4 linked regions of the Homo sapiens genome follow. The protein of the gene in region 4 interacts with the protein of the main gene of each other region in a pairwise test. Each region holds a gene or a part of one and is shown on either strand. Other genes may lie near its edges. The genes, in order: MYF5, KCNIP1, TAF1D and NHLH2.

What was found.
Region 1: the proteins of NHLH2 (region 4) and MYF5 interact in binary tests that used the Homo sapiens proteins (3 or more experiments, as listed by UniProt).
Region 2: the proteins of NHLH2 (region 4) and KCNIP1 interact in binary tests that used the Homo sapiens proteins (3 or more experiments, as listed by UniProt).
Region 3: the proteins of NHLH2 (region 4) and TAF1D interact in binary tests that used the Homo sapiens proteins (3 or more experiments, as listed by UniProt).

What each region holds. Positions count from the first base shown.
Region 1 is NC_000012.12:80,712,589-80,721,244, forward strand, and holds MYF5 (myogenic factor 5), read left to right. Parts: upstream 1-4,323; 5' UTR 4,324-4,475; coding exon 4,476-4,976; intron 4,977-5,769; coding exon 5,770-5,845; intron 5,846-6,272; coding exon 6,273-6,463; 3' UTR 6,464-7,083; downstream 7,084-8,656.
Region 2 is NC_000005.10:170,506,059-170,514,391, reverse strand, and holds part of KCNIP1 (A-type potassium channel modulatory protein KCNIP1), read right to left. Parts: intron 1-8,333. UniProt on the Homo sapiens protein: Regulatory subunit of Kv4/D (Shal)-type voltage-gated rapidly inactivating A-type potassium channels. Regulates channel density, inactivation kinetics and rate of recovery from inactivation in a calcium-dependent and isoform-specific manner.
Region 3 is NC_000011.10:93,734,818-93,739,579, reverse strand, and holds the end of TAF1D (TATA box-binding protein-associated factor RNA polymerase I subunit D), read left to right. Parts: intron 1-248; 5' UTR 249-275; coding exon 276-343; intron 344-1,080; coding exon 1,081-1,471; intron 1,472-2,340; coding exon 2,341-2,516; intron 2,517-2,828; coding exon 2,829-2,886; intron 2,887-3,275; coding exon 3,276-3,419; 3' UTR 3,420-4,013; downstream 4,014-4,762. UniProt on the Homo sapiens protein: Component of the transcription factor SL1/TIF-IB complex, which is involved in the assembly of the PIC (preinitiation complex) during RNA polymerase I-dependent transcription.
Region 4 is NC_000001.11:115,838,127-115,846,461, forward strand, and holds the start of NHLH2 (helix-loop-helix protein 2), read right to left. Parts: upstream 3,001-8,335; 5' UTR 2,822-3,000; intron 2,578-2,821; exon of another isoform or gene 2,419-2,577; 5' UTR 2,090-2,418; intron 255-2,089; 5' UTR 247-254; coding exon 1-246. UniProt on the Homo sapiens protein: Transcription factor which binds the E box motif 5'-CA[TC][AG]TG-3'. Involved in regulating energy expenditure, body mass, voluntary physical activity, mating behavior and reproductive longevity, acting through the hypothalamic-pituitary-gonadal axis.

The sequences.
Region 1 (8,656 bases), on a different chromosome or scaffold from region 4:
TTTTTCTTCTAGTAATATTTTATCCCATTTTGTCGTTTCAAAATCGCTCTCCCACAACACCATAGCTGGAATTTTTTTTGACATTTTTTTTAAGCTTTGAATATCTAATTGCCTAATCCAATGCATTGATAAATTATCAATAACATAGTATTTTCTCAAAGAGCCAAACCACCAAGCTATTTCTCTGACAGGCCCCTCCAGTCACTCCCTTAAACTATTACACTTATAAAAGATGATCCTCCATCATAGAGGTTTCACTCTGAAAAAAGCAATTTTTTTGCAAGCCTAGTTCAGAGTCAGTCTGAGATGGAATGGCTATGCCATGTGCTGGAACAAAGATAATGCTGTAAGAACTGGCTACTTTCTGTACTCTCAAGGCTGCTAAATGTCCTTACTTAGGCCTTTGATCTCTCCTGGAAGTCCTCTAATTCAAGCAGAGGCCAATGTCTTCCTCAGCTGTCTTCACAAATTCTTCCAGCAGCTCTGGCAGGTACTAATGTGTTTACTTAGGTGTGCCTGATTCCCAGAGCTAATAGCAATTTGCAATTGTTGAGCACATTGTGAAGTCATCTATAATATAAAAAATATCAAGAACAACTCCCTTAGTCCAGGAGTTGATAAGGATCTGCAGGCAGGGGCAGAAGTGAATTGGAATGTATGTATCCTTCTATATGTATTTGGTTTCTCCCTCCAAGAAAAGCATAGAGAATTTTCAATAATGCAGAAAGCCTAGGGTGGGCAAAATTTATTAGAAGAAGAAGGTATGAGCATCATTTTGCTGGTGTGATCTGTCCATCAATATTAGTGTGTTGCCATAATGCTTAAACTAACACAGATTTCACTTAAAAAAAAAGTTGATGTTACGTAAAGGTCATTGCAGTTAGAACCTGGTTATAATTCTAAATTGTAAGAAAATCAAATGTATTTATTTTTTCAGAATATAAAATGAAATAAATAAATAAATAAATACTTCACCAGAGCCTTAGTGGGTATCCATTTATAGCACCAGAGGTGACTGGGTTTTCTTCCCCTCAACTACCTATGGTTAGACTTTCCTAGCAGACAGTGTTGGAGTGTCATTTCTAATAACCTGTTTACATATGAAATAAATGTGCGTTTTCTCCGCAAGCAAGAAATCCACTTCTTTGCAGAAATAGTGGAAAACTTATTTTCATTCTTTGTGTGAGGAGCAAAAGCCAATCTAATCCGACTTTGAGTACAAAAGGGTGCCCTGAGTAGATCTTTTCAGAGCCATTTTTAAAACTTTTCCCATGCTTCCCTGGCCAACCCACTCAAAAAAAAAAAATGCTTTTCTCTATGTTGCTCACCCAGTTCTTTCTTTTTCCCCTTCCAGGTCTCCCCTGGGAAAAGAGCAGGGAGACCGCTCCTGAATTGGGACACTGTAGCCATCTTTGTGGTGCTGGCTGCCTACTGTCTTAGCATATTGCCTTTTTTTTTTCTCTCTCTCTCTCTCTCTCTTTCTTCTCTCGCCCCTGACAGCGTTTTAAAAGTTTTGTCTTATTTCTTTTTACTTTGGTACTCTGAGATCCTATTTTCAGCACTTGCGTCCCAAGGGCTCTCAAGTCCGGACCCTGTTCTCCTGCTAGCAAGTCCCATTAAGCCGCCGGGCGCTTGTGTTTTCTCGGCTTCTTTAGTTCCACTCGCTCGCGGCACTCTGGTAACTTTGTTTTGAGATCACCTTACCAGAGACAGCTCTAACCTCTGAGAACTACCCTTACTGACAGAGGCTCCTGAGTGACGGCGTCTTCCCAGGCACAGGAGCCAGGGAAAGATGTTGAGTAGCCAGCTTTTGCGAGTTTCTGCTCTGGAGCCCTAAGGAAGCGCACGGAGCCTAAATTAATTGAAGAAGAAAACAAACAAAATCACCTCTAGGAGTAGGAACTATAATGACAGGATGCCTAGTTTCCAATCCTGTATGACCTTGGGGCAAATAACCTAGTCCCTGGAGCTCGAGTTTACTTTCTTTCTACAATGGGCCCAATAATAGCTCCCACAGGGTGGTTTGGAGTATTAATTGTTAAGTTAATCTAAGGAAAGGGTTGAGAACAGTGCGGGGCAAATAGAAAATTCTCAATAATTGTTAGTTAAAAATATTTCGCGCTGAGGGGCTTGAGTACAAATCACGTTAAGTGCTTTCAGAAATTAGCTGAAAGATGAGCAGAAGCGTAACCTCTAACTTTCACTCAAACTTTAAAGACCAAGTTTATTTGTGTCCAAAGCACAAGTCCGAGCTAATTTGTGGACTCCACAGCCAAAAAAATAAAAAAGTGGTCATATGGCTGCTAATAGAAACTGTGGGACTTGGCTGAGAATTCCTGGGGGAGGATATCTACCCACTATTGTATTTCAGAGGTAGCAATGTGCTTTGCATTTGCTGTGCATTTGAATGTTTCCACCAGCGTGGATGGCATCTTAGTTTCCACCTGGGTTCTTCTTGAACTTGCCTCTTTTTATCTGGCGTAGCCCTGGATACCGTATTCATTTCAAAGGCATAGACTTGTTAATAGCCCTAAAAAAGGTGCAGATGGATTTCCCACTGGTCAGATGATTAAGCAGCCCATTGGTGTGAGAGGGAACCTGATTTTCAGGAGAGATCTTTTTCTTAGAGATGACAGGACAGAAGAGAGGAGACAGCAATGGTGTGGCTAGCAAACCTTAGTGACTGACAGTGTCACTCTCCCACCTCTGGTTTTCAAGGTCTTCACTTTAGAGAGATCGCACCCTGAAAAGGTTGCTACTTCTCTGGCCCCTGAAGATGCTGGATCAATGAACCAGTGTTGCTTTAAGAAAATAATTCTGAAAAAAAAGTACAAAGTACCATTCACTGAAAGAAATAATAATAATAATAGGAAGGAAAACTCCCTCCTCCTCGCAATAACTTCGGAGCCACTATATTTATTGAACTGGGTTACCCTAGATTGAGTTGAGAACACTCCTGCTTCTTTCAACGGGGCCACAAGACCTAGTCCAAAACCCCAAGACTAATTGTGTAGACCTTAAGTAATTGCTTTTCCTAAATATAAACAGCACCTCCCCAACCCAAATAACCTGAAAGTGGATTAAGGTTGGAGGAGGATTGGTAAAAGCTGATTAATAGATTCATTCCCACTTAAATGACAACCCTCCCCTCTTGCCTTCTATCCATCGAAGTTCTAAAGACCCTGCTGTGATTGCTTTTCTGGAAGGCTTTTGTCACTGAAGTGTGTGAAGTTACTCCTGGTTTGAGGAGTTGGAAATTTTACACGAGTCAAGGATTGCAGTGGCGGCAGCTGGGACGCATCTGTAACGGTGTTAGTTTGCCTGAAAGCAGAAAATTAGCAACCCCAAAGCCCAGCTTGGCTGTTTAGTCTGTAGAAATGACAGGGCGGAGCAGAAAGAGAGGGAGAAAGGAGACTCACCCCTGGAAAGGGAGTTTGCCGTCGAAAACTGGGCTTCTTCTGTTGGAAATCTTAGAGACACTTTCAGTGCAGGTCTTTGGCCTGCTCAGGATCTAGGGAAGGCCTGGCACAAAGGAGAAGGTGCTCAACAAATACGTACAGAAGGGGAAAATGAAGGAAGCAAGAACGGGAGGAATGTTCCTGGTCACCTGGCCCTCCTGTGCCCCACCTCCTTTTAGATGAGCAGACATACAGGGAGAACTCAGAGCAAGCCCAGTCATGGGAAAAGGAACCTCCCTCCCTACTCTCAATAAGGTAGAGCCTAGAATAAATGACAATCTGAGCAAAACTTTACTCATCTGAAGCTATACAAAATAGATTTGGAAAGGCAAACCCTGTATTCACTCCAAGATTGAAAATGCCACTTCAAGTTTTTAGTAACCGTTATTCAATCCAATTGCTGGAAAAAGTTTTCGAGATAATTGAAGTTCATGAAAAAGAGAAACAAACACCCCCAAATCAGGTGATTCCTCACGCCCAGGATTGGGAGGGCAGGTCGGCTCTTGGTGCCAGCTGAAAGGGATTTCTATTTATTACCACTATTTTAAAATGTGTGTCCAATTGCAAAAAGTTGGACTGCCTTGGTCACTTTTGTGTGAAACACTCCTTAAGTGATCCCTTGTTTTAGCCTATCTAGAGAGTGCAAATGAGCAGGTTGGGGACCCACTGCCGCCCCAGCAGAAATACAGTAAAACCATTAGCGTCAAAAGGGGCAGTACACAGCAGATTGTCTGTAGAGGAAAGGCGGAGGTTTGTCCAGACAGCCCCCGCGGGGGTTGCGGTGGGATATGCTAATAGTGCCTGGCCACTGGGGCCGGCCTCCCTCCCGAAAGAATATATAAAGAACCCCAACCCCAGCTTGTCTACCCAGGCCAACAGGCGTCTGCCCTTGTTAATTACCGGAGCGACAGACTAGGGAGCTCCGCCCGGGATTTGCCCATCGGCGGAGGCGCCAGGCTCCCGTTTCTCCCCATCCCTCTCGCTGCCGTCCAGGTGCACCGCCTGCCTCTCAGCAGGATGGACGTGATGGATGGCTGCCAGTTCTCACCTTCTGAGTACTTCTACGACGGCTCCTGCATACCGTCCCCCGAGGGTGAATTTGGGGACGAGTTTGTGCCGCGAGTGGCTGCCTTCGGAGCGCACAAAGCAGAGCTGCAGGGCTCAGATGAGGACGAGCACGTGCGAGCGCCTACCGGCCACCACCAGGCTGGTCACTGCCTCATGTGGGCCTGCAAAGCCTGCAAGAGGAAGTCCACCACCATGGATCGGCGGAAGGCAGCCACTATGCGCGAGCGGAGGCGCCTGAAGAAGGTCAACCAGGCTTTCGAAACCCTCAAGAGGTGTACCACGACCAACCCCAACCAGAGGCTGCCCAAGGTGGAGATCCTCAGGAATGCCATCCGCTACATCGAGAGCCTGCAGGAGTTGCTGAGAGAGCAGGTGGAGAACTACTATAGCCTGCCGGGACAGAGCTGCTCGGAGCCCACCAGCCCCACCTCCAACTGCTCTGATGGCATGGTAAGCAATAGATCTGGTACCTGCTAGGCTACCCTAATCTTTTCTAAAGTCCTTACACCTCATTTAACCTGGTGTGGTGGGGAGAGTGGGGTGGAGGCAGATGCTGAGTTGCTTTAAAAGAAGAGAGGGGTCCACATTTAGAAAGACTCCCCAAACCGCTGCTGAACAAGATTTTAGTTTAACTTTCTAGCAGGTTCTAGGTGTACACTGTAATCGAGTGTTGACATGGAAGATGGGTGGCTGTGAATGATCACTCAGATGTTTTCTCCATTCCTGAATTTATTTTCAAAATATGCCATCTGTGGATCATGCCCTACGCTAATATCTAAAGGCACCGTTTCTAACTTAATGAGGAAATGGAAAGAAATACCCACACGGCCCCAGTTCCTGCTCCAATGAGGCCTGGCTGAAAGATGTTGATGCATTCTTTTTAGAGGGCGTTTGCTCCAAGGCTGCCAGGTTTTAATGTGTTTTTGCCCTGGGAAAGTGTTCTTTCCCTGAATTAGTGTGGCTTTCTTCTACTCCAATCCATTTTGCATGGTTAACCCAATGCACATTGCTGCTGAATTCCACCCCCTCTTCCCTTTGCTGCTGCTCTCCTCTTCTTCAAGCACAGAGATTGACCTCAGTGCCCTGGGAATTTGGAGAGGGCTAGCCCTTCCTAAATCAAGGCAGTGAAGGTGATTGACAGTGTTCGGTTACAGAGCTGGTGGGCAAGCACAGCCTCACCTTTGGTCAGAACATCTTTTGCCAAGACCTGAAAACAAACTTTGTTGTGTGTCTTGTATTATAGCCCGAATGTAACAGTCCTGTCTGGTCCAGAAAGAGCAGTACTTTTGACAGCATCTACTGTCCTGATGTATCAAATGGTAAGAATTGATAACTTCACAGGAGTTTAAAGACCAGTTCAACCTAACAATTCAGCCTATAAGATTCTGTTCTTGCTGATAGTATTGGGGAAGGGAGAATGGAAGTGATGGTTCTTATAGGGAGGCTTTGGTAAAGCAAAATAAACACATCTTCTGCTCCAAATCCCCCTAGCAGACACGCACGCACACATGCATACACACATGCACACACAATGTTGCTTGAAATATTATCAGGGGGCTTCCCCACTCCCCACGTCTACCCCTCAGGAATTGCCAGATATTTGTTGCAAATTTCTATGTTAGGCTTTCTGTGACCACCTGACCTCTGGGTGTCAGAGGAGCTGACCTACAATTTAAGGAGCAACATAAGCAAATCTGTCTATCTTGGGCTAATTATTTTTTAATGCTTTTCTCCTTGTATCCTTAGTATATGCCACAGATAAAAACTCCTTATCCAGCTTGGATTGCTTATCCAACATAGTGGACCGGATCACCTCCTCAGAGCAACCTGGGTTGCCTCTCCAGGATCTGGCTTCTCTCTCTCCAGTTGCCAGCACCGATTCACAGCCTGCAACTCCAGGGGCTTCTAGTTCCAGGCTTATCTATCATGTGCTATGAACTAATTTTCTGGTCTATATGACTTCTTCCAGGAGGGCCTAATACACAGGAAGAAGAAGGCTTCAAAAAGTCCCAAACCAAGACAACATGTACATAAAGATTTCTTTTCAGTTGTAAATTTGTAAAGATTACCTTGCCACTTTATAAGAAAGTGTATTTAACTAAAAAGTCATCATTGCAAATAATACTTTCTTCTTCTTTATTATTCTTTGCTTAGATATTAATACATAGTTCCAGTAATACTATTTCTGATAGGGGGCCATTGATTGAGGGTAGCTTGTTGCAATGCTTAACTTATATATACATATATATATATTATAAATATTGCTCATCAAAATGTCTCTGGTGTTTAGAGCTTTATTTTTTTCTTTAAAACATTAAAACAGCTGAGAATCAGTTAAATGGAATTTTAAATATATTTAACTATTTCTTTTCTCTTTAATCCTTTAGTTATATTGTATTAAATAAAAATATAATACTGCCTAATGTATATATTTTGATCTTTTCTTGTAAGAAATGTATCTTTTAAATGTAAGCACAAAATAGTACTTTGTGGATCATTTCAAGATATAAGAAATTTTGGAAATTCCACCATAAATAAAATTTTTTACTACAAGAAATATTTTGGCTCATGATCTTTTAAAATAACACCCCAATGGAATTACTGTTCATTGACATGAAATCTTTACATGTGAGCTGAAAATACTTAAACAGTTGGCTTTTCAGATAAGTCTGAATATTTACCATTCTCATGTACCCAGTTTAGGTCCTGTTGATGTCACAAGTGAAAATGTCATATTTTCATTTTAAATATATTTCAAGTGAACCTGCTAAATGAAACTTTTCCTTTATCTTAGAACTGTACCATATACTATCAAGTCGTTTGTGTGTGAAGGGAAGATAGAGGTTATTCAGGACAGTAACACATGCTTTTTTAAAAAAGACTATACAACATCACATCATTTTAATAACTATAGTACAACAGAAGGCATGAGTTAAATCATATTTACTTTTACTACCTGCCTGAAAATATCTTGATAATATATACTAATATTGTCAATAAAATATTTAAAGGTATTGGGCTGATTTTTTTTATATTGCTAGAGTGCCAACATAAGAAAACTTACACAAATTATACTGAAGTGAGACAGACTTGAGTTTTCTTCCTTCTTTTTACAGCCTTTTAAACTTTATTGTATTAATCATATCATGTATGCGTGTGTGTGCATGTGTGTATGTAAAACAGACTTGTCTCATATTCATCACCCTAAATCTCCTCTAGAAAGAACTGATATGAAAAAATTGAACAATTAAGTGGAAAATTAGGTTGAGACAATGATTGGGATAATTATCACAAGTTTACCATTGAGAGAGATTTTAAAAAGAGATTCTTAAAGTATCTAAAGTAGCTATTCACAGAGAACAAATATTGATAATTGTTTAATCCTCTTATATGTACATTGATTTAAAATTCCTAAGGATTTGTGGTTACATACATTAATTTAAAAAAAGCATACAGACTCTTTACTAGAGCTTGGCAATGCTACTGTTCTCAGGAAGGTTTCTCTTTCTCTCTGGTGTGATTTGCTCATGCTTATGCAGTCATGAAGCTTAAAGGAATGGGAATCATTCCATAAGGGAGGTATAAGGGCTGAGTTAAAAAATATGATGGCCACTGTCACTCTGTTAGCATCATGGCCTGACAGGGAACGCTGACTTTTAGCACACAGATATAAGTCTTTACTCATGATTTCAGAGTGTGAGGATTTTACATGAAAAGAATTCAAGAGGGCATGATAGAGATTTGTGTATATGTCCAACATAAGTCTGGGTTATCCACTTTTGTTAGAAACTGTGCTAGGTACATTTTCTCCTTTTGATACTTCTATGGAGACATTGGAGATTTGTTTTTAATAGGATCAGACAGGAAAAAAATTCAAATATTGGTTTAGTTTTTTAAACTTCAATTTTTAAACACATTACCATATTTTGTTTCATTTAATATAATTAAGCAGAAAATATGAAATTTTTGGTTCAAATGAATGAAAATTAAACTTTTTCAAATCAAATCTCAATTGCTTTATAACTTTGCAAGCATACCTAATATTCTCAATGAATATGATAATGATAATTTGAAGTAGTTAGAGCCTTTTCAGTGGTCTGGATATAATACAAGGGGTGGTTAATGTACAA
Region 2 (8,333 bases), on a different chromosome or scaffold from region 4:
AAGCCTCCTGAAGACACCCCTGCTGAGTGCACAATTTGGACATCTGGGAGAGTCATACATGGGCGAATCCCAGAGATGGAGAGAAAGTGCAGCCTCAGCCACACGGATGCAAATGTGCCAGCTTCCCCCAGGCAGCTGGGAGCTTCATGGTCTCCACCAGAACATCCCTCACTCTGGGTCCAGGGTTGGCATGGGTGAGGAGCTGATGGGGCCAAGAGGAGGCTGTCATTTTCAGTTCCTGGGAGTTGGGAAACTAGCTGTAACTGCTCAGCCTCTTCCTGGGGCTCAGAGGCTTGCTTGTCCTGGATATGCCCTCCAGCTGCAGGCAGGAGCCCAGGTGGTGGAGTGCCTCGCAATCAGATCCACTTCAAGTCCTTGCTTACTAATCACTAGCCAATCAAGAACCTCCCTGCATCTACGTTTCCTACTCTGCAAAGTGAGAATAATAATGAAACCATTACAGGACTCCTACAAAAATAAAAAGATTACTTTTTTGGGGGATCCCCACCAACAGAGAGGTCCTACTAGACCCCCTGGAAAAGGCATTTGACTTTCATTCCCCAGGCCCTACCTGTGTCTGTTTAGACTCCTACTTTAGTCACATTTTCTGGCTTCAAATCCCACACAAAGGCTCTGTATGTAAACCAGGCTGCCATCCTGCTCTGGGATTCTGAACATTATCAGTGAAATCCATTATGCAGGCAAGTCTCTAGTTGCAGTCCACATGGCTCTGTCCTGCACCCTGTTCTGGCCCATGTTCTTAGAAGCAACTTAGATAAAGACCTAGAATGCCTCCTTATCATTTCTTCAGGTAGCAGAAAACTTGGAGGTACAGCTAAGATGATGGCTGGTGGAGTCAAGATTCAGGATCTCTGTTGGCTGGAATAACATTTAAAATGAGTAAACTAAAACTTAATGGGCGTACATCATCCTGCACTTCTTTGTTGTTAAAAAGAAAGAGAGAGAAAGAAAAACAGACAAGCTTGATTGCAGAAATGCAAATCTGGAAATCTGACTTCTTAACAATTTATATGAGATGACCAGGGCTGGGGTTCGGATGTCAGGCCTAACACTTGAGCTGTGTGATTGTGGGCAAACCACTCACCTTCTCTGGATTCTATTTTCTTATTTGTAAAATGAGGCTTAAATCAGAAGTCTTAGCAAAAGCCTCTTCTGGCTTGATATATAATTTTGTGTAATACAATACACATAGTTCCATAATCTGTACTTTAGGCCAGTATTCCTCAGACTCCAGTGGGCATATAAACCATCTGGTGATCTTGTTAAAATGCAGGTTCTGACTGGGTAGGTCTCACTGAGTTGAGGTTTTTTTTTTTTTTCCAAGATGGAGTCTCGCTCTGTCGCCCAGGCTGGAGTGCAGTGGCGCGATCTCGGCTCACTGCAAGCTCCACCTCCTGGGTTCACGCCATTCTCCTGCCTCAACCTCCCGAGTAGCTGGGACTACACGCGCCCGCCACCACGCCTGGCTAATTTTTTTGTATTTTTAGTAGAGACGGGGTTTCACCGTGTTAGCCGGGATGGTCTCTATCTCCTGACCTCATGATCCGCCAGCCTCGGCCTCCCAAAGTGCTGGGATTACAGGCGTGAGCCACCGCGCCTGGCCGGGACTCTGTATTTCTAACAAGCTCCCAACTGATGCTGAGGCTGTTGGTTGGAGGAGCACACTTTAAGTGGAGTAGACCCAGATAGTAACAATTTACCTTTAGCGCATTCTGAGTGCTGACCGCTGCATCTTACATGCATGACTGCATTTAATCCTCATAACAACCTGGGAGGGAATTATCAACAATACTTTCATTTTCTAGATTATGTAGAGATGAAAGTTCACAGAAGCGAGGTAACCTGCTCAATGTCACACAGCTAATGAGTTGCAGAGCCAGGATTTGAATTCTAGGTCTGCCTAACCAGGAGTGTATGCTCATAACAACCGTATAACATACGCAGGTGATTTGGGCCAACATGTGGCTAAGGAGAGAAAGGAGATGAGCAGTAAGGTACTTGCAAATGTACTAGCAAGTTCTTGTGTTTTTTTCTTAGCAGTGATAACCACTTGTAAACCGACTGATCTCCTTGCCCACCTGGACCGTGTGAAAACTCTGATCCTGGTCCCTGGTTCTGAACGTTTGCAATTCTAACATACTTGGAAGATATTTAAACACTCTATCTTCACTGACAGGCAATGATGGCTATAACAAAGAGAGAAAATTTTAGTTCACATAAATGATTAGAGCAGAGGAGAGATGTTTAATCCTATTAATGAATTTGCTAATTGGCCTTCTGCCCCCAATCATTTCATATTCAGGCTTCCACAGTGTCAGATGAAATGGAAACAGATCTAGGGGGAGGCGGGGTTGGGATGGGGCTAAAAGCATTTTGCTCAGGGCCTGCACGTAGCTCAGTTGTTCCGTGTGGCTAATGAGGTGCTTCAGTCTATCCTTGAATGCCTTCTCCCCAACATCCATGCACCCGTTTTGACTGTTTTTCTACTCAGGTCCCTAAGGTTCCAGAGGCAAAGCCAGGAGGAGAGGAGGTTAGTATGGCAGTTAGAAGCTCAGGGTCTGGGATCAACCAGAACCAGGCTCTGCGATTCCCAAGCTCTATGACCCTTAGTAAGGCACTTCCCTTTTTAGAGCCTCAGGTTCCTCAACTGCAAAATGAGAACTGTAATAGCATCTTGTCCTCCAGGGTTGGGGTTAATAAAATAACACAGGAAAGAGCCGAGCAAGGTGCCTGGCACTGGGTGGAGGCCAGAGTCATTTGAGCTAGTATTATTATCCTTCCTGGCGGGTGACCTGCATTTTCATACCTCACTGTTGGGAATTGCTTTTACCATCTAAAGTTGACAGCTTCCCTTAGGAATCACCAGAGAAACTGCTTAGAATGCCAGTGACCATGGATATGGTGGCTCGGGATCTCAGAGGGCTGGAATCAGAGGCCACAGCTCAAAGGGATGGGGAGATTACCAAGGGTAACACCGTCATCATCCAAGTGGAGCAAGGCAGAAGGAAGGGGCCTGTCCTGAGATGGGACAAAAGGCAGCAGCAAAGCCAGCACTGCCAACTCACCTGGTGTGCAGCACCATGTTCAATTCCTTCTTGGCCCTCACGTGGCCCTATAGGGAGACACTGTCATTGTCCCCATTTTTTAATTTTTATTTTTTTTGAGACGGAGTCTCGCTCTGTCATCCAGGCTGGAGTGCAATGGTGCAGTCTTGGCTCACTGCAACCTCCGTCTCCTCGGTTCAAGCGATTCTCCTGCCTCAGCCTCCTGAGTGACTGGGATTACAGGAGCATGCCACCATGCCCGGCTAATTTTTGTATTTTTAGTAGAGATGGGGTTTCACCATATTGGCCAGGCTGGTCTTGAACTCCTGACCTCGTGATCTGTCCACCTTGACCTTCCAAACTGCTGGGATTACAGATGTGAGCCACCATACCTGGCCCACTGTCCCCATTTTATAGAAGAGGAAACTGAGGCCTGGAAAGGCTCAGCTATGAACCAATGAAAGGGAGTTCAATCCCAAGACTCTTATTTTAACGCGGTGCTCATAGCCATAATGCAATCCTACTTCTAGCTTCCTGATTTGAGTGGAATGTGGTTCCTACTTCCCCCCACCGCACCAATGAGGCTTTTAGTCTGGCCTTGAATAACAAGATTTAATCCAAAGTACTACTCCCATGGCTGGGGTACGGGAAGCTAGCAATATCCCAACTGACTACCACTACTTCCAGAAGGTGACCTATTTAAAATACTACCCGGAGGAAGGGGAAGCATTTAAAGAGATGTTTCTCTGAAGGCCCTAGGACTCTTAGGCTCTCTCTCTCTTTTCTAAAAACTGTTCCTTCCCTGCCTGATGAATGGGAACATCAGCTCCACGGCCATTATGCAGAATTTTGCAGAGCTTCTCCCCAGGAGCAGACCTGGATTCCTCATCTGCACCGCCGCATTCTCACACCGCTCAGAGCCATCAAGAACGCACACTCTGGCCCATCCATCCTTACCTCCATGCCGCCAGCATCCATCAAGCCTGGATGCAGTGTCAGGCCTGACAGAGGCCCTGGGATAAGACTCAGTGCCTGAAAGCTAGTCAGAGAGATAAATGTGTAAACCCATAATGACAACCTCATAGTGTGTTCAGAATTGTAGTTAAGGGAAGCAGCAGCAGCTATGGGGAAAGAGAGAAGGCAGAGATGTGCTCTGCCTACAGAAGCCAGGAAAGGCTTCCCAGAGCGGTGGCATTGAATGAGGCCTTGAAAGATAAGTAGGAGTTGGCCAGGTGAATGAGGAGATGGAGGAAGAGGGAGGATGAGGAAGCCAGAGTGGATCTTAGGCAGGGAAGCAATGCTGAAGGACAATTGTGGGACTGGCTAAGTGAACAAATAAATGAGTGGATAAATATACAGATTCTGATCTCACCCAGGCAAGGGTGAACGAACCTGAAATATAAGGGAAGACAAGGGGAATCACTGTGAGTCAGTCCCTGCTTTTGTTTCAGCAAAAGAGTGAAAACTTAGAGACATCTCCTCACCTTCTCCAAAGACACTATACACCTACCAGTATCCAAAAAATTACCAGGACTCTTCTTGACTGAATTTATATTTTTCAACTTTGGGGAGATGACTATCAATGCTCTTTGTGAAAAGATAGGCTGTTAATTATAGCTGTTCTGGCACTTCATCATTCATTCATTTATGGACATATTCATTCATTCATGTGGTCATTTATTCGATCATTCTTTCTGTCATTCAGTTGATAATTCATTTGTTGCTTCATTCATTCACTCCTTTACTGCTTCCCCCATTCATTCAATCATTCATCTTTTCACTTATTTGTTAAAGCATATGCTCACTTATTCACTTACAGATTTACAAAGCATTCATGGAGCAAGGCCCTTCCAGGCAGACAAAGAGGTCTAAGCCTTGGCCCTTTTCCAGAGACCAAGTCAAAACAATCCCACTGATTTTAGGCAGTAAGTCCTTCTCCTCTGTCTTCCATTCTTTTCCATCTCTCTCTTTCTGTTTATCTTGAGCTCCATTGAGCTTCTTCTGGGATTGAGGGACCAGAACTGTGCCTGGTGCTGGGTGTGGGTTCCTCATACCTTTGTGATTATGAGGGAGTGGGAGTAGAATCACTGTTCTCAGCACTTTCCTGCTAAATGGTAAACAGATTCGGTACATTTCATGGACAAAGTCAATTCAAAGCCAGCAGACCGAACAACAGAATTCATTCCTGGCAGAGGGCTGGTAACTGAAATTCCGGTGGGAAGCTAACTTTTCCTGCAGGGTCTGCAATTCTAGCAAATAATGGAGAGTGGCCAACCATTCCATTATTTATAGTTTACTCTAGGAAAATTTTTATTAAGTACCTACTATGTGCACAGAACCAAGCAGAGAGTTGTGAAGGATGAGTTAGACGAGCTCCTACCCCCAAGAACCCTGACCTCTGGTGGTGGGGAAAGGGGGTTAACACCTCCGTTGATTGTCTAATTCCAAGCGCGATTGTGAGTCATAAGAAAATGTACACCTTAAAAGAATATGGGAATTCAGATGGGAGAAATCACTTCTCTCTGGGGCTTGGAGAAGGCTTCCTGAATATGGAAATTGCTGAGTGAGGTCTTGGAATGTCGGTGGAATTTTAACTATTAGACAAGGCAGCAAGGGGTGGGGTGGGAGAGCATTATAGAATTAAAGGGACAGGCAAAGATGCAAAGATGGGTAAAGACCAAAGCACAAACATTTCTATACATCAGGATTCTCCTTTTGCAGATAAAGAAACTAGCATTTACAAGGTGAAATGACTTGCCAAAGGCCTGCCCCTTGGGCTCAGGACTATGTGACAACACGGCTACTGCTTCTCTATGCCTGTCTGTCTCTTGTCACTCTCCCATATCTTTAGGTTGAAAATGCTGCCCTGACCAATAAACCCTAAACCCAGTCTCATCAGGTACACTCTGCTTCCATAAGTTCCCTGAGGTGCTCATTGATCTAGGAGCAAATATGGGACTATCGGGAACATTCCCATGTTTGGCCCTATATTAACCAGTACCCTATTAACTCACCGTGTGGCCTTAGAAAAAGCATCTGATAGCCATGGGGTTGAGTCATAGCTCACCTATGCTATGACTATTCTGGAGATCCGAAGCTCAGCCCTTTCAGAAAGTTCTGCATGCTTGCACTCGGTCATGGAGGATTTCTAACCCAGCCACCCCTGTAGTGTGGGATTATTTGCTTCTAGGCAATTCTCTGTTGAGATGGCCTTGGTCTAGTGATGTTGTCCCTAAATTCTCCTGCCCCGCTGACAAGCCCAGCAGCTGCACCTGTATGGTCCTCCTCTGGTTCTCCTCAATGCCCTAGCCTGTCTCACTTACCCATTCAAGGCCAGGAGCAGTGTCCTTGGTGTGTCATGCACATGCAAAACTGCTAGAGTCAGAAATTCTATCTGGGACTGGGATGCAGAGGCTGAATCCCAAAAGCAGGGCTCTCCTACTTTTAATTAAAGACACACAAAGATCCCAAACAGAGAGAAGGACAGGAAATGAACCTGAATATTTTTATTCAGTGGCATGGCTCTTAAATTACTTTAGATTTCTGTTGCCTTTAGAGAGCGCTCCCTGAACACCCAGGTTGGGCTGGATATCTTCTTGCAGCACTAATCATGCAGAGTTTTTGCCCTATTTAAAAACTATGTATGTTTCTAAATTGTATTATCAAGGCATTCAGGATTTTAATTGAGCAGGCTTTGATGTTTTCAGGACAAGCCACAGAGTAGAGGTCAGTGAGGGTTGAAGCAAGGGACGAGCATCTGTGTGCTGGGGTTTTTGGTCCTAGTTATCTGGATAGGGCTGGATAAGGTTTCCAGAAATGAGCTGTTAAGGCTCTCAGATGTACTGCCTACTTCGAAAATGGCCTTACTCTGGACATTTGGAAGCCCCAAACAATAGAGCCATAAATTGAATAGTACCTCAAATTTGCTGACCACTTATGTAGCAGAGACTGTGCTAAATGCTTGACTTGCATGATCCTTGAAATCCACACAACACAACAGCTATTTTAAGATGGTAACTACTACTATCTCTGTTTTATAGTTGAGGAAAACAAGGCTTAGTCATACAGCTAGTAAGTGGCAGAGCCTGAATTTGAACCCAGCAGGGAGACTGATTCCTGAGTTGAAAAATCCCAACTGCTCTCTTCCGGTTGCTTCTAATTAGATCTGAGCCTCACGTCTCTGAGATCATAGCAGCAGCTCTGGTGAGAGCATCAACCATAAAAATATTAGAATTTGAGAACCAAATGGAACCTGAGGAAATGCCTAATGTAAGTTTCTCCCTTTACAAAGAAGAAACCGAGGCCCCAGTGGGGAAAAGTGACCTGGCCAGGATAGGCTCCCTGACCACTAGCCTCCTCAGCCAGGGCTTCCTCCAGGTTTCCAAGCTGCCTCCCATAGAAGGGTCTTCTGCTGATTAGCATTCCACTATGCAAGGCAGTGAGATGACTGTGCTTCGGGGGCAAATACCTGGGGGAACATATGCAGCTGGACCCCTGGACAACTCACGCCAGTGGGCTTTGTGCAGGAAGGGCTGAGTGCCCAGTGCTTCGATAGCTTGTCTTGGGAGTCCACCCATTGGCCCCGAACCTGCTATGAGCCTCAAACGAACATTGTTGTGAGGGTTAAATGAGAGTTGTTGATAAAACACCGAGCATTATGGCAAGCACACAGTAGGGACACACTGAATGCCAGTACCCCCTCTTCTGTTTCTTAGAATCCGAGGAGACAGAAGCAAAGACCTTTGTACTCTGGGAATCCTGCAGGAATTCATCCAGGGTGAATTCCTGGATGTTTGGGGCAGGAGAAGGAAATGGTAGACAGCAATGTCTGAGCTCTTACTCTTTTCCCAGCCCTATGCACGGAGCTCCCTATTCATCATTCATTTGATTCTCACATCCTTACAACAACTTCCTCTGGGTCCCTGGTGGCTGCAGCCAACACAGTATATGAGGCAGAGTCTTCCCTTCCTCTACTTCCTACATACCCTTCCCTCCGGGAAGTAGCATACGAATTTCATGGATGAAAAACTGAGGCTTAGGGAGGTGCGGGGGACTTTCCTAAGGTCCCAGAGGCAGGGAGTGATGGAGCTGGGATTCACACCCAGACTCCACTTGACTCTAGGGCTTGAGATCTTTCTGTGACACCCAGCTCCCAGGAGAGCCACAGGCATTGAAAATATTTAAAAACAAGCCCCTGACTTTCCTGTCCCCACAGTCCCCTGGCCTCTGAGACCGCATGGTGGTCAGACAGATGATGAGGGAGAAGAC
Region 3 (4,762 bases), on a different chromosome or scaffold from region 4:
GAAGGGACGGTACTTTTTTGGAATCTTGTTGCGTTGAATACATTTAGAGGGTAACAACTGAAAGAACCTGTGAATAGAATTTCTGGATTTCTTTTTAAAGAAACTGATCTGAAATGGATAAGAAGCTTAACCTTGGTAAATGATTTCGCCTGAAATCATTGGCATAGTCTGACCACGTTCAACACTGTAGTAGATACTGTCAATATTTAGGGAAGCTTTGTCATATTTACTAAATTTCATAATTTCAGAAAACTGTTTAAAACAAAGAGCAATTGATGGATAAATCAGGAATAGATTCTCTTGACCATGTGACATCTGATGCTGTGGAACTTGCAAATCGAAGGTGAGTGGATTCAATCATGTTTATTGTATCTGAATTATGAGAAACTATTGTATATAATGAGTGACAGTAAAGATAATTTTCAGGAATTGGGAAAGAAGGAAAACTAGATTTCACTGACCTTCCAAGTTTATCTAGTTACATAGATTGATATAATAGCATTGCAAATACTTTAAATTCAAAATGTGAATATATTATGGGACACATTCGTCGAGAAAAAATGTATTCTTTGGGTCATATTAGCATCTCTTCCAGACTACATCCTCCGGTTCGGTAGGCTGTGTTTGTTTTACTCAGACACTCTTAGCAGTGAACCGAACCATACAGCCTTTTGGAGCTCATACATTGTCTTGAAAGATACAGTTTTTTTGTAAGCTGAGCATAGTGGTGCATGCCATTAGTCCTAGCTAGCTACTTGGGAGGCTGAGGCAGGAGCATCCCTGGAGTTTCCAGGAGTTTGAGGTTGCAGTGAGCTGTGATTGCACCACTGCACTCCAGTCTGGGTGACAGCAAGACGATGTCTACAAAACTCTTTAATAAGAGCTGTAGCATTATGGGCTATTTAAATAGGATGATCAGTAGAAAGGCTAGCTGGTTCTGAGCCCATCCTTTAAAAAATTTTTAATTCTGGGCATGTTTTCTGAGTTGGTCTTGGAAGAAATGTACATTTAGGACTGGGTATTAATGGTAATAAGCAGTAAGAAAAGAAGATGAAATTAATTTTTTTCCCATTTTTCTAGTGATAACTCTTCTGATAGCAGCTTATTTAAAACTCAGTGTATCCCTTACTCACCTAAAGGGGAGAAAAGAAACCCCATTCGAAAATTTGTTCGTACACCTGAAAGTGTTCACGCAAGTGATTCATCAAGTGACTCATCTTTTGAACCAATACCATTGACTATAAAAGCTATTTTTGAAAGATTCAAGAACAGGAAAAAGAGATATAAAAAAAAGAAAAAGAGGAGGTACCAGCCAACAGGAAGACCACGGGGAAGACCAGAAGGAAGGAGAAATCCTATATACTCACTAATAGATAAGAAGAAACAATTTAGAAGCAGAGGATCTGGCTTCCCATTTTTAGAATCAGAGAATGAAAAAAACGCACCTTGGAGAAAAATTTTAACGTTTGAGGTGAGTCAGCATTTTACATACATGGCTACACATAACTCAAGATGCCCAAAATGATTTGTTGGCCAATTTAGAATTGTCTCAGATATACTGGGAACAGACTGTCTGCAATTTTGATACTCTTCTATACTGACTTACCCCTAAAGTCCACCCTATCCTTCAACTGAATCTTGACTTGTATCTCTTAATATAACTACACTTTGCCATATTTAAAAGATAGTGCTCCAAGGCTCTTTGTATAAAATCCTTTGATCTTATCCCATCTCAGGTCTTTAAACACAACCCTAAAACTCAGTGGGGATAATAAAAGCTCACATAACTTGAAATTACTTTTGCAGTAACCTAAACTAAAACCACACATGCCTTATGTTCAGTGGATATATTCTTAAGGCCTAGATGTTTCTAAGCCAATTATCTGAAAAATACGCTAATACTTAGGAGTAGACTTTTTTAAATATTTGAGAGTTGTATGTTGAATGAATTCAGAATTAATTTATGATCCCTTGCCAGAACCTGAAATTTTATTTGGGAGGATTAATACATGTTAATCTCTTCAGTTAATCTCTTAAGTTTAAGGTGATTATAGTAAACATTAGAAATCTTATTCCTGTTTTTACATTTTAAAATGCCTTTAGTAAGTCCCAGACATGACAAGATATGTACTTCACTTTTCCATGTTACCAGCTTAGGTAAATTCATAATTGTAATGTGAATTTTAATAATCAGCATTTGATAAGTCCACAAGTGGGGAGTAGTTAAGATAGCAAATTCAGAGTCTTTGCTAAGGGGGGGCATTGCCCTTTTTGAACATAGGCACCTGCTGGGTCTTAAAAATAAAATCTCGACATACTTATGGTGTTTTTAATATATAGCAAGCTGTTGCAAGAGGATTTTTTAACTATATTGAAAAACTGAAGTATGAACACCACCTGAAAGAATCATTGAAGCAAATGAATGTTGGTGAAGATTTAGAAAATGAAGATTTTGACAGTCGTAGATACAAATTTTTGGATGATGATGGATCCATTTCTCCTATTGAGGAGTCAACGTAAGTGGAATCATATGAAATACTTTGGTAATAGGTTATAAATTAAATTTCTATGTTAATTGCTTCATATTTTGCCTTTAATATAGTTATACTTAAATAATGAACAAAGATACAGAGTATGACAATTGGGATTATTACAGTTGAGCCAAGCTTGGCACACCGTTCATCTAGAATTCTCCAGAACACAAAATTCTCAAATTTTGTGTTTCCTTTGACTAGTATTGCAGTTTCAGTTATATTTCAGAGTGGAATATACAACTAATTAGGTCATCGAAGATTCTGTCATCTCGATGATAAATTTTAATATTACAGAGCAGAGGATGAGGATGCAACACATCTTGAAGATAACGAATGTGATATCAAATTGGCAGTAAGTGACTTATTTTTTTCCTATTCCATTTTGGGAAGGCAGGAGTTGGTTGATACAGAAGGAATTATATTTAGTTTTTCTCTTACACTTCATTTAACTTTTGAAAAGCTCTATAAGTTTACTGCAGGAAATGCAAGAAGGAAAATAATTTTTTAGAGACTTGATAAAGAACATGGGGTTTTCAGTACTATTTTTAATAAGTAGCATTCTGATACATATTATTGCTAGTTAGGATGTCAAATGAAAAAATAAGCAATGTTAATTTGGATTTTTAACATCTACATGTAGTCTCTAGGTTATCTGAAGTAATCCAGGGCATTCAGCTATATGTAATTACTAAACTATTTGAGTTATTGCTTAATCCATGATTTTTTGTTTGTTTTATGCAGGGGGATAGTTTCATAGTAAGTTCTGAATTCCCTGTAAGACTGAGTGTATACTTAGAAGAAGAGGATATTACTGAAGAAGCTGCTTTGTCTAAAAAGAGAGCTACAAAAGCCAAAAATACTGGACAGAGAGGCCTGAAAATGTGACAGGATCATGAATGTCAAAGGTGAAGCATATAGAAAAAACGACTTCATAGAAATGAATAAAGATAAATGTGGATATATGTACCAGTCTGGTGGTGAAGAAATTCTGAAACCCAGAACTTTATAACAAGAAAAAAAATTTTTAACCCTGTGAAGAAGTTTGTGAAAGAAACTTGTGAAGTAGTAATAATTAGAAAAAAAACCATTAAAACACCAGAGAAAATACATAGAAAAATTTGAGAAATTGTCATTTGATTTCTGAATAAGAGCTTACAGGTGTCCTGTGAGTATTGAAACAATGAAATGTAGTGATTTTAATTTTGAAAAGAAAATCTTAAAGTAACTTGACACCCAACCATCTTGAAGAGGGGATTTGAAATGCTGTAATTTTATCCCAGCTTTGTTCAGCCATGACAAGTGACCTGTCAGATGCTTAGTATTGTAATAACCTCATTTCCCTTTCCAAATTTAGAGTATCTTTAATACTATTTTTTTTAGACAGAGTCTCGATCTGTCACCCAGGCTGTAGTGCAATGGCCGCAGTCTTGGCTTACTGCAACCTCCATCTCCCGGGTTCAAGCGATTCTGCCTCAGCCTCCTTAGTAGCTGGGATTACAGGCGTTAGCCAGCACACCCAGCTAGTTTTTGTTTTTTTAGTAGAGACAGGCTTTCACCATGGTCTCGAACTCCTGACCTCAGGCGATCCGCCTGCCTTGGCCTCCCAAAATGCTGGGATTATAGGTGTGAGCCATGGCACCTGGCCTAATACTACTTTTAACTACCATTTTCACTTTTTATTAGTTCAAGAAAAGGCATACACATTTATTCAACATGTATACCTGGGGAGAACCAGTCATTACCCCGATGTTCATTATTTTGATCACCACGATAGAGCTGACTACTCTGCTATGTAGTGCATTTTGGGACTGCACTTATGTATGTTTTTGTTTAACGTGGACAAAGACTTACAGATAGGTGCAAAAAATAAATCCTCTTTTGCAACCCAGAACTCATTGTTCAGTATGAGTTTTGATACATATAAGAAGGGATATTATGATACCTGAGACAGTTGATTGATGGGAGTATTGATAGCCATAAAGGTTGGTTCCAGGCCAGGTGCAATGGGTCAAGCCTGCAATCCCCACACCAAGGTGGGAGTATTGCTTGAAACCAGGAGTTCAAGACCAGCCTAGGCAAGAAAGTAAGAAACACATCTCCACAAAAATTTAAAAATTAGCTGGGTACTGGGGCATGTGCCTGTAGTTGGAGTTACTCAGAAAGGGGGGAGGCTGAGGCAGAGTTGGAGGCTGCACTGAGCTTTGATGGCACCACTGTACTCCAGCCTG
Region 4 (8,335 bases):
GTGGGCCGAGCGGTACTTGGCCGTGGCGCGCCGGCGGCGGCGCTTCTCCTCGCGGCTCAGCTGCTGCGGGTGCGGGTAGAGCGCGGCTCGGCTGCCGCCCTTGCCGTCGCCCTCGGCCTCCTCCACCGGCTCCAGGTCCGACACGCTGCCGAGCACCTTGGTGTCCGTGCCGCCCAGGGACTCCGGATCCGAGTGCGCCGAGCTGGGATGGTCCGAATCTGCTGCTTGGTCCGGACTCAGCATCATTTTGGAGGCTGAGGAGGGGTCGGAAAATTAATCAGTAAAAGGAATCAGGGTATTTTGCTGGAAGGATGGCTGCCGAGGCCTACCACGCCGGTCCTCCCAGCGGACGCGCGGCCCGGGCCCCCTCCCCACAGCAGGCCGGCGCGCGACGCGGGAGGGCGCCGATAGGATCTGGCCCGAGGGCGCGAGCCCTGCGCCTCGCCCTGGCGCGGGAGCCGGCGGGGACGCGGTTGACCCAGGCCGCATACTAGACTGGACACCTCGACTTGCAGACGGCCACAGCGGGCCTGTGGCCCTGGGCCTGGGGAACAACCGCAGGCCTGTGGGGTCGCGACTGGGTTTTTGTGCCTCTTCCGGCCAAATGCCAACCGCGCTATTCCTCCTCCCTCCCTTCGTCCCCTTCCCGGACAAACGAGCGATTTCGAACAACGAATACATCTGGGTTTTCACGGGGGCGGGGAGACGCGGGGTGCACTTCTCGCCCCGAGGGCCTCCGGCGAAGCAACCCGGCAGCCGCGGCGCCCGAGGGCCTGGCGCTGGTCTGGGGCTGCGCCGGGGGCGCCTGGCTCTGGGGTGCGGCCGGTCAGGAATCCCCATCCTGGAGCGCAGGCGGAGAGCCAGTGGCTGGGGGCGGGAAGGCTTCTTGGACCCCTCGCGCTTCTCCGAAATCGTAAAGAAATGACTAAACAAACGTGGGGGAGCCTTTAAAAAGAAAATTGACTCCGATGCCCTCGCAGGCTCCCGGAGCACCATCTGTCACGCAGACAGCCACACACATAGGGGACCTAGGGACACGGCGACGTGGGATCAGACAATGCGCCCGGCAGTCTGGCGACCACCTTGCGGGAAAATGCCGGCAGCCGGGCCGCTGAGGGAGGAGAGGATGCAGAGGGAAGGGAAGAGAAGGGAAGGGCCCGGGGCGGGGCAGGCGGGGACTAGCGGGTGCAGCGCGTGTTGTCCCGGCGGGAGCTGCATCTCTGCCGGCAAAGTTCGGGCGCTCCCGGAACCGGAGCTCGGCAGGCTGCAGCTGTCCCCGGGTGGCCTGGCCAAGTCCGGGCATGTCGGTGCTTAGCCTTCCTCTAACTTAACTGTGCCCTCTTGGAAACGCCACCTGGCCAGGCTTCTCTGGGGCGCCTGGAGCACTGGCCCGGACTGTGCGCCTTCTGGGAGGGGGCCGCTCAGAACCGCTGGGCTTCCGGGTAATTCGGGCTTCGAGAAAGGGCCCGGCAGGAGGAGAAAGGCCCCTGCAGGGGCTGCACGCACCGCCCCTGGGCGTCGGGAGTGAGGACCAGGCTGAGAACTCGGGGCCCCGGCGTGGGCAGCCTCCACGACGCTCGGCACGGGAGAAATCCGCGTCGGCGACGTATAGGAGCGTTTGCTTCTAGAGAAACAAAAGCAAGGGGATGGGTGATCGGTTCCCAGCACCGCACTTGCAGAGGAGCGAATTGGGCCAAAACAGCTTTAATTTCCCTGCGAGGAAATCAGGTCCTCTACGGCAAAATAAAAACAAATGCTCCCAGAGAGCTGCATGTGACTCCCTACGGGCTTTTCTCGGGTACGTTTATGAGTAGAACAACTTGCACCTACACAGTCAGCTTGAAAGGGCAGAAATAAATAGACGAGTAATGGAAAATCACAATAAGCCACTAAATAGTTGTAGTTCTGGTAAAAAGTTCCTGGGTTGCCCTCAAAGCACATTAAATTCTCCTCTAGATCTTTAAAAATATTCATAAATAGTATGCCGTGTATGCGTTTTATCTCTTTATGGAATGAACTGCATCTATAGATACAGTATGAATAATCTAACTTATTTCAAGCTGAAAAAAATTATTTAAAGGAGTCTTACCTTGCAAAAGCCTTTTTGATAATCTGTTCTCCAATCTTTAGAGTTAAAATTCCAAGGAATAGCGAGGGGAGATTCCGGAAAATATTAAAAGCAGCAAATATTTATTACATTCAAAAATGAAAAAGCAGCTGTCATCTCGCTGGTGTCCGCAGCGAGGGACAATAATATCTCAGGATGTAGACGATATGAATGATTGTTCACTTAGTTGATAGATTTTTTAAAAAACGCTTTTTCCTTTTAATTGTTCTCAAACATTGCAAGAAATTCGTTGATGATTTTTTTAAACGATGTGTTGAAAAGTCTCGTGCCTTTTTTCCTCTTCTAGGTCTCTAAAAATAACAAAAGAGATGCAGAGATAAACACAATCACATCAAAGGGCTGATTCCTCCACTTTCTAATAGCGGAATAATCAATAAGAAAGATGGTTAAGATAAGATTCCGCTCCTATCGTATGCCTTTCTTTTCCTTAATACGGCTGAGCAGAAACTGGGAAGTGCAGGACAGAGATGTGATCTTGCTCAGAAGTGATTTTTTTTTTTTTTTTGAGATAAGGCTTTGTTCAGCTGATATCTCCCCAGTTCCCAGGAACACAATACTGTAACTAGGAGCTAAGGTTGCCTCTTCCTCTTCCCTCACTTACTTGTATGTTGTATAAATAGACACCTATTTTCCAGTTTCAAAGTCTTTCAAGGTTTGGCTATATCCCCCGTCCCCAGCCCCTCTTCTCTTTACCTTGTAGCAAAATATATATAGTCAGTGGCTTGGAGATGCTTGGAGAAAGGTTGGTGAAAAGTGAACGTCTCCTGGAGTAACAGTGACAAGGAAGCAGAGAAAGACGGGAAGAGGGTGGGAGAGCCAGAGCAAAGAGGCAGAGATGCGTGTGTGGCTTCTGGGCTCTCCTGGTACCAATTGATTCAGCCTGGAGATGGTGGAAGAGATAAAGGCTTAGGAAGGGGGATGGAATTTTTTTCCCCTAAATTGATATTTAATGGGAAATCCTATTGGACAGAAACCTGGACATGAGTCACTTAATTGGACTTGACATCTGTCACAGTGTGGGAGTTTTCACAGCCCAAATATTTTAGCAGATCAGATTCCCACTGAATCTGTGCCATAAAATATAACAATTGAAAAGCAGTTCATGATAGAAATCTTAGCCTCTAAACAGTATCTAGCCGTAGTCAGGCTATTTCTCTTTTCCAGATTATTGATGAAATATTTAAGTACAAATAAACAATATATTGACTATCAAAGAATTCCCCTGGCATATTACAAAGCCACCACTTTCCCTTAATATTTAGAAAAATATTTGTGTCCAGAACATGGAAATATATACTATATAAGATGCTGCAATAAAGTATTTAGACATGCAACAGCCAACATTTATTAGAGATCATTTACATTTTAAAAGATACTTCAGTAAGGTTTGATTAAGCATATTAACATTTTTGAGAAATGATCTGCTATGAGACTAACTTATCAATAGATGGTAAGAACCTTTCAATAGATTAAGCCATTGGTGGAACTAGAAAGAGAATCCACATATTCACGGACCACGACATGAGATAATTCTACTTTTCTGTATGTTTGTTTTTCTCTCCACCCACTCATTCATTCAAGCTGAAATATGACATGCTACATGTGTTGATTATTGCACTTCATTCTTGCCCATCTTAACATGCTAATATATTGTACTGCGTGGCAGTGCTTGTGCCAAGATGTAAACACAAATTACCAGTGTGTCCCAGTACATAATGCCTTTGCCTTACATGATCCCATGGCCCTGAATTTGTATACCTTATAATAAAAAATAAAATCTAGTTCAATTATTTTGCCACTTTATGAAGATACTCATAGTTAATATCAATAACATATTATTTGTGATTATTTTAGCTTGTTTTGATCATACAAGCTTAAAGAAATAAAAGAGCATTACAGCCTTACTCCCACCCCGCCAGTTCCTAGGGGAACATTTGTGGAGAGAGGAGTCCTCACTTGTCTTCCTTAATTTTGCCCTAAAAGCAGATTTTATCACCAGGGGAGGCACATTGAGCAGCCCACCCCTGGGAGTGACCCTCCGGGTTTTTCATGGCTTCCACAAGTACTATTTGCCTTTGCCCACATTTTTGCTCCTTTGAGAGATTCCTGGACCACAATGGGGCAGGGGTCGGGGAAAGGAGGGAGTGCCTCCAACAAATAAGGGCACCAACACTCCCCAGCCTTGCTTCTGCCTAACCCCAGCACAGAGGTATATTTTAGATATCCCCAGAACGTTAAAGTGAAGATGGAAGCCGGTCCCATACAGGTGGCAATGGAAATGGGTGAGTGGATAAACACCCCAAGGTGGTGACAATGAAGGGAGAAGGGAGGTTTTCTCACTCTAGTTAGGAACAGCCAATGCTAAGCATTCACACACAACCAGAAGTGTGCACACAGATGCACACCCACAGACACCTGTACCTCCTCCCCCTTCATCATACAAGCTGGCTGGCTCTATTAGACCACCACACATCCATACTGATGGATTGAAAAAAACTGGTGGGTCTAATCACCATAGCTCTAGAGTGGGCAGCTGCTACAGTGGGAAAGGACCAGCATCTCTGGTTCCCCTGGTGTTGGGGAGTCATGACAGGGTGTGCCTATCAGGGCAGGTCCAATTCTGCTATGGTGTGTGTGATACCAGACAAATTCCCTTTTATGTTCAGGCTTACTCATTCTATACCAGCAGCCAGCATACACAAAAATTAATGCTTACAGAAGTAAGCCTGTATAAACAGGTACACACTCAGATCCATACTTAGTGATGCCTAGCCACACTGTCATAGACACAGACATGGATTCACATTCACACACACACATTCTTTCTTCCATCAAAGCCTCCCCCTCCCCCACCCCTTTGCCTTTTCTAAGACCTCCCTGGCACAGATGGCCCCTCCTTCTGTGCTCCATAAGCACTCCTTTCATGTCTCCCTTAGAGACTACATATTGTGTACCGTGATTCTTGGTTCTTGGTTACCACACTGGTCTCTCTTCCTAGGCTATGATGCTTCCAGGGGAGGTCTGTAGCTTATATCCCCAGCACTAATGTCTGAGCTTGACACATTATAGGTACTCAGTTCATTTATGATGTGACTCTATGTACAGAGGTACCCCAGATATTTGTAACATAGAAACGCTTCCACTAAAGGACACCCATGGTTCAGTTCTATCAATTTTCTTTCCTGTAAAAATGAGAATAATAATATTGCACTTCTCATTTCACAGGCTCGCTATGAGACCCAATGTATTTGAAAATATTTGATGAAATAGTAAGCACCATACAAATTATGATATTATAGACTATAAGAGTAATATTAAATAATATTATTAAATGAATGGGGAGGTGATAAGTAGTGACTTAAAAAGTCCGGCTTTGTGGCTCTGTCATATGCTAGCTGTGTGAATTTAGTTGTAAGTTACTTAACCTTTTTGGACCTTAGTTTTCTAATCTGTAAAATGAGAATAATCAAAGCATGTTATGTAATGTTATGTCATGTTTTTTTCTGAAGGTGAACAAGATAATATATGTAAAGTGCTTAAACTAATGCCTAGAACTCATGTTCAGTAAGTGTTGGCTATCATTATTATTATTATTCAGTATAAATACATATTGAGGAACAGATATATATTGACATAGAAAAATAAACATATCCAGATATACTCACCCGTGTGTGTGTGTGTGTGTGTGTGTGTGTGTGTGTGTGTGTGTGTGTGTCTGTCCATAGCTCTGGTGGCCAAACTACAATGAGCATTTTCCATGTGTCAGACCTAGGTATAGTGACTTTGCTCATATTAACTTATTTAACCTTCACCACAAACCTGTGAGGTAGGTAGGTACTGTTGTCCCGATTTTGTGTATAAGAAAACTAGGACATGGAAAAGATGGTAATCTACTCAAGGTCACATAGCTAATAAATTATGGAGCTAAGATAGAGATTCAGGTGGTCTAAATTCAGAAACTGCACTCTCAGACACAAAGTACTACTGTTTCTGTCATTGTATCCTACACAGATATACTCACACAGAACTATTCACCAAAATGCATATGGCAAGGGAGAAATACACGTACACACAAAACTTAGATAAATGGCCACCTTTGCATTCAGGGGTGGTTAGTGAGTGATATGGTTTGGCTGTGTCCCCACCCAAATCTCAACTGGAATTGTACTTGCCATAATTCCCGGGTAGGAGGTAATTGAATGCTATTCTCATGAAAAGAGTAAGTTATCATGAGATCTGATGGTTTTATAGGGAGCTTACCCCTTTGCTCAGCTCTCATTCTTCTCTCTCCTGCTGCCTTGTAAAGAAGGACATGTTTGCTTCCCCTTCCATCATGATTATAAGTTTCCTGAGGCCTCCTTAGCCCTGAGGAACTGTGAGTCAATTAAACATTTTTCCTTTATAAATTACCCAGTCTCAGGTATGTTCTTATATCAGCATGAGAATGGACTAACACAGTGTCAGTGTAGTTTAAATACTTACTGCACATCTAGTGCTTTGCCAGATACTGTTGGACTACAAAGGCTTTGTAATTATTTGTTACTTTTATGAGACATCTGTTTCCAACCTATTTTTTAAAATTTTGTACCCCATAGATAAAAATTTAGGGCATACATACTGAGTATATGTATATTTATATGTATATACCCAATTATAACTACATAATATACTAGTACAGTAGTACATGTATAAGCTTTGTACATGTACTACTGTACTAGTATATTATATAATTATGATATACAAAAGATAAGCAAAGATATGATAAAAATATTTATTTTAAAATTTGTAAGTATTTATCAATAGATACATTTATAAATTTAAATATTCATATTTATTATTAAATATATGATAAACTTAAAAATAATATTAATAAACTAATTAATTTTATTTATTAACAGCACAAAAACCAATTAACAGCATAAGGTTTTATTGATCATGTATAACTTCTGAGAGCAATAAGCTTAATTTTGTTAAACTCATTGTTTAACCCTTTGAGATAATGATTTGATCATCTGGTTTTAAGATCAATTTATTTAGAATCTGTTTTTTGGCTGATATAGCAGAAAGAGATGTAATACAAAAATTCAGATGGTATCACAAAATATGATAAGCATGTGAAGTGATGGATATGTAAATTAGCTTGATTTACTCATTCCACAGTGTAAACATATATCAACACATCACATTGTACATCATAAATGTATACCATTTTTATTTGTCAATTTAAAAAAAAATAAGAAAAAGTGGAAACATCCCAAAGGTCCATCAACTGATGGATGGATAAACAGAATGTGATATAACCATACAATAGACTACTATTCGGCAAGAAAAGAAACAAAGTACTAATACATGTGACAACATGGATGAACCTCAAAAACATTATGCTGAGTGAAAGAAGCCAGACACAAAGACCACATATTGCGTGACTCCATTCATATGGAAAGGTACAGAATGAGCAAATCTATAGAAACAGAGGTAGATTAATGGCTGTGCAGGGATAAGATCGGGTAAAGAAAGGTACCAGGGAGTGATTGCTAATCAGCAGAGTTTCATCTTGGGATGATGGAAATATTCTAAAATTAGATTTTGGTGATGATTTCATGACTCTGTAAATATACTAAAAAACATTGAGCTGTGTGCCTTAACTATGGTATGTTAAGTATATCTCAATAAAGCTATTAGAAAATTCAGAAGACATAATGTGTGATATTTATGTCACTGTAGTGGGTAAAGGGCGTGATGTCTTTTCTCACCCATCATAAGGGTCACAGCTGACACTCCTTTAACAAAAGACAGGTTAACATGAAAAGCATAACATATTTATCTAATCAGAGTTTTACATGACACAGGAGTCTTCAGAATGAAGACCCAAAGATCCAAAGGAAAACTGTCCATTTTTATGCCTAGATTTGATGCAGAGTGGATAGCCGTGCAGAAATGCGACTGGACAAAAAGGGAATGATCTTACAGCAACAGACTGAATGAGGAAACCCAGGAAAGCCTGCCTGTTAAGATTCTACTTGGTCTCTCTGTGTGGCATTCCTTTTTCCAGGGATAGTGCAAGACCCCTTTTAGAATGAGGGTCTTATAATCTACTTGCAGACAGAGTAGGTCAGAGAATTTCTGTATGGTCAGCTCTTACACAGAAAAATGGGAGAATGTTAGAATACTATTTCTAGGTTTTATGGCTGGCTTTGGAGAGAGGGG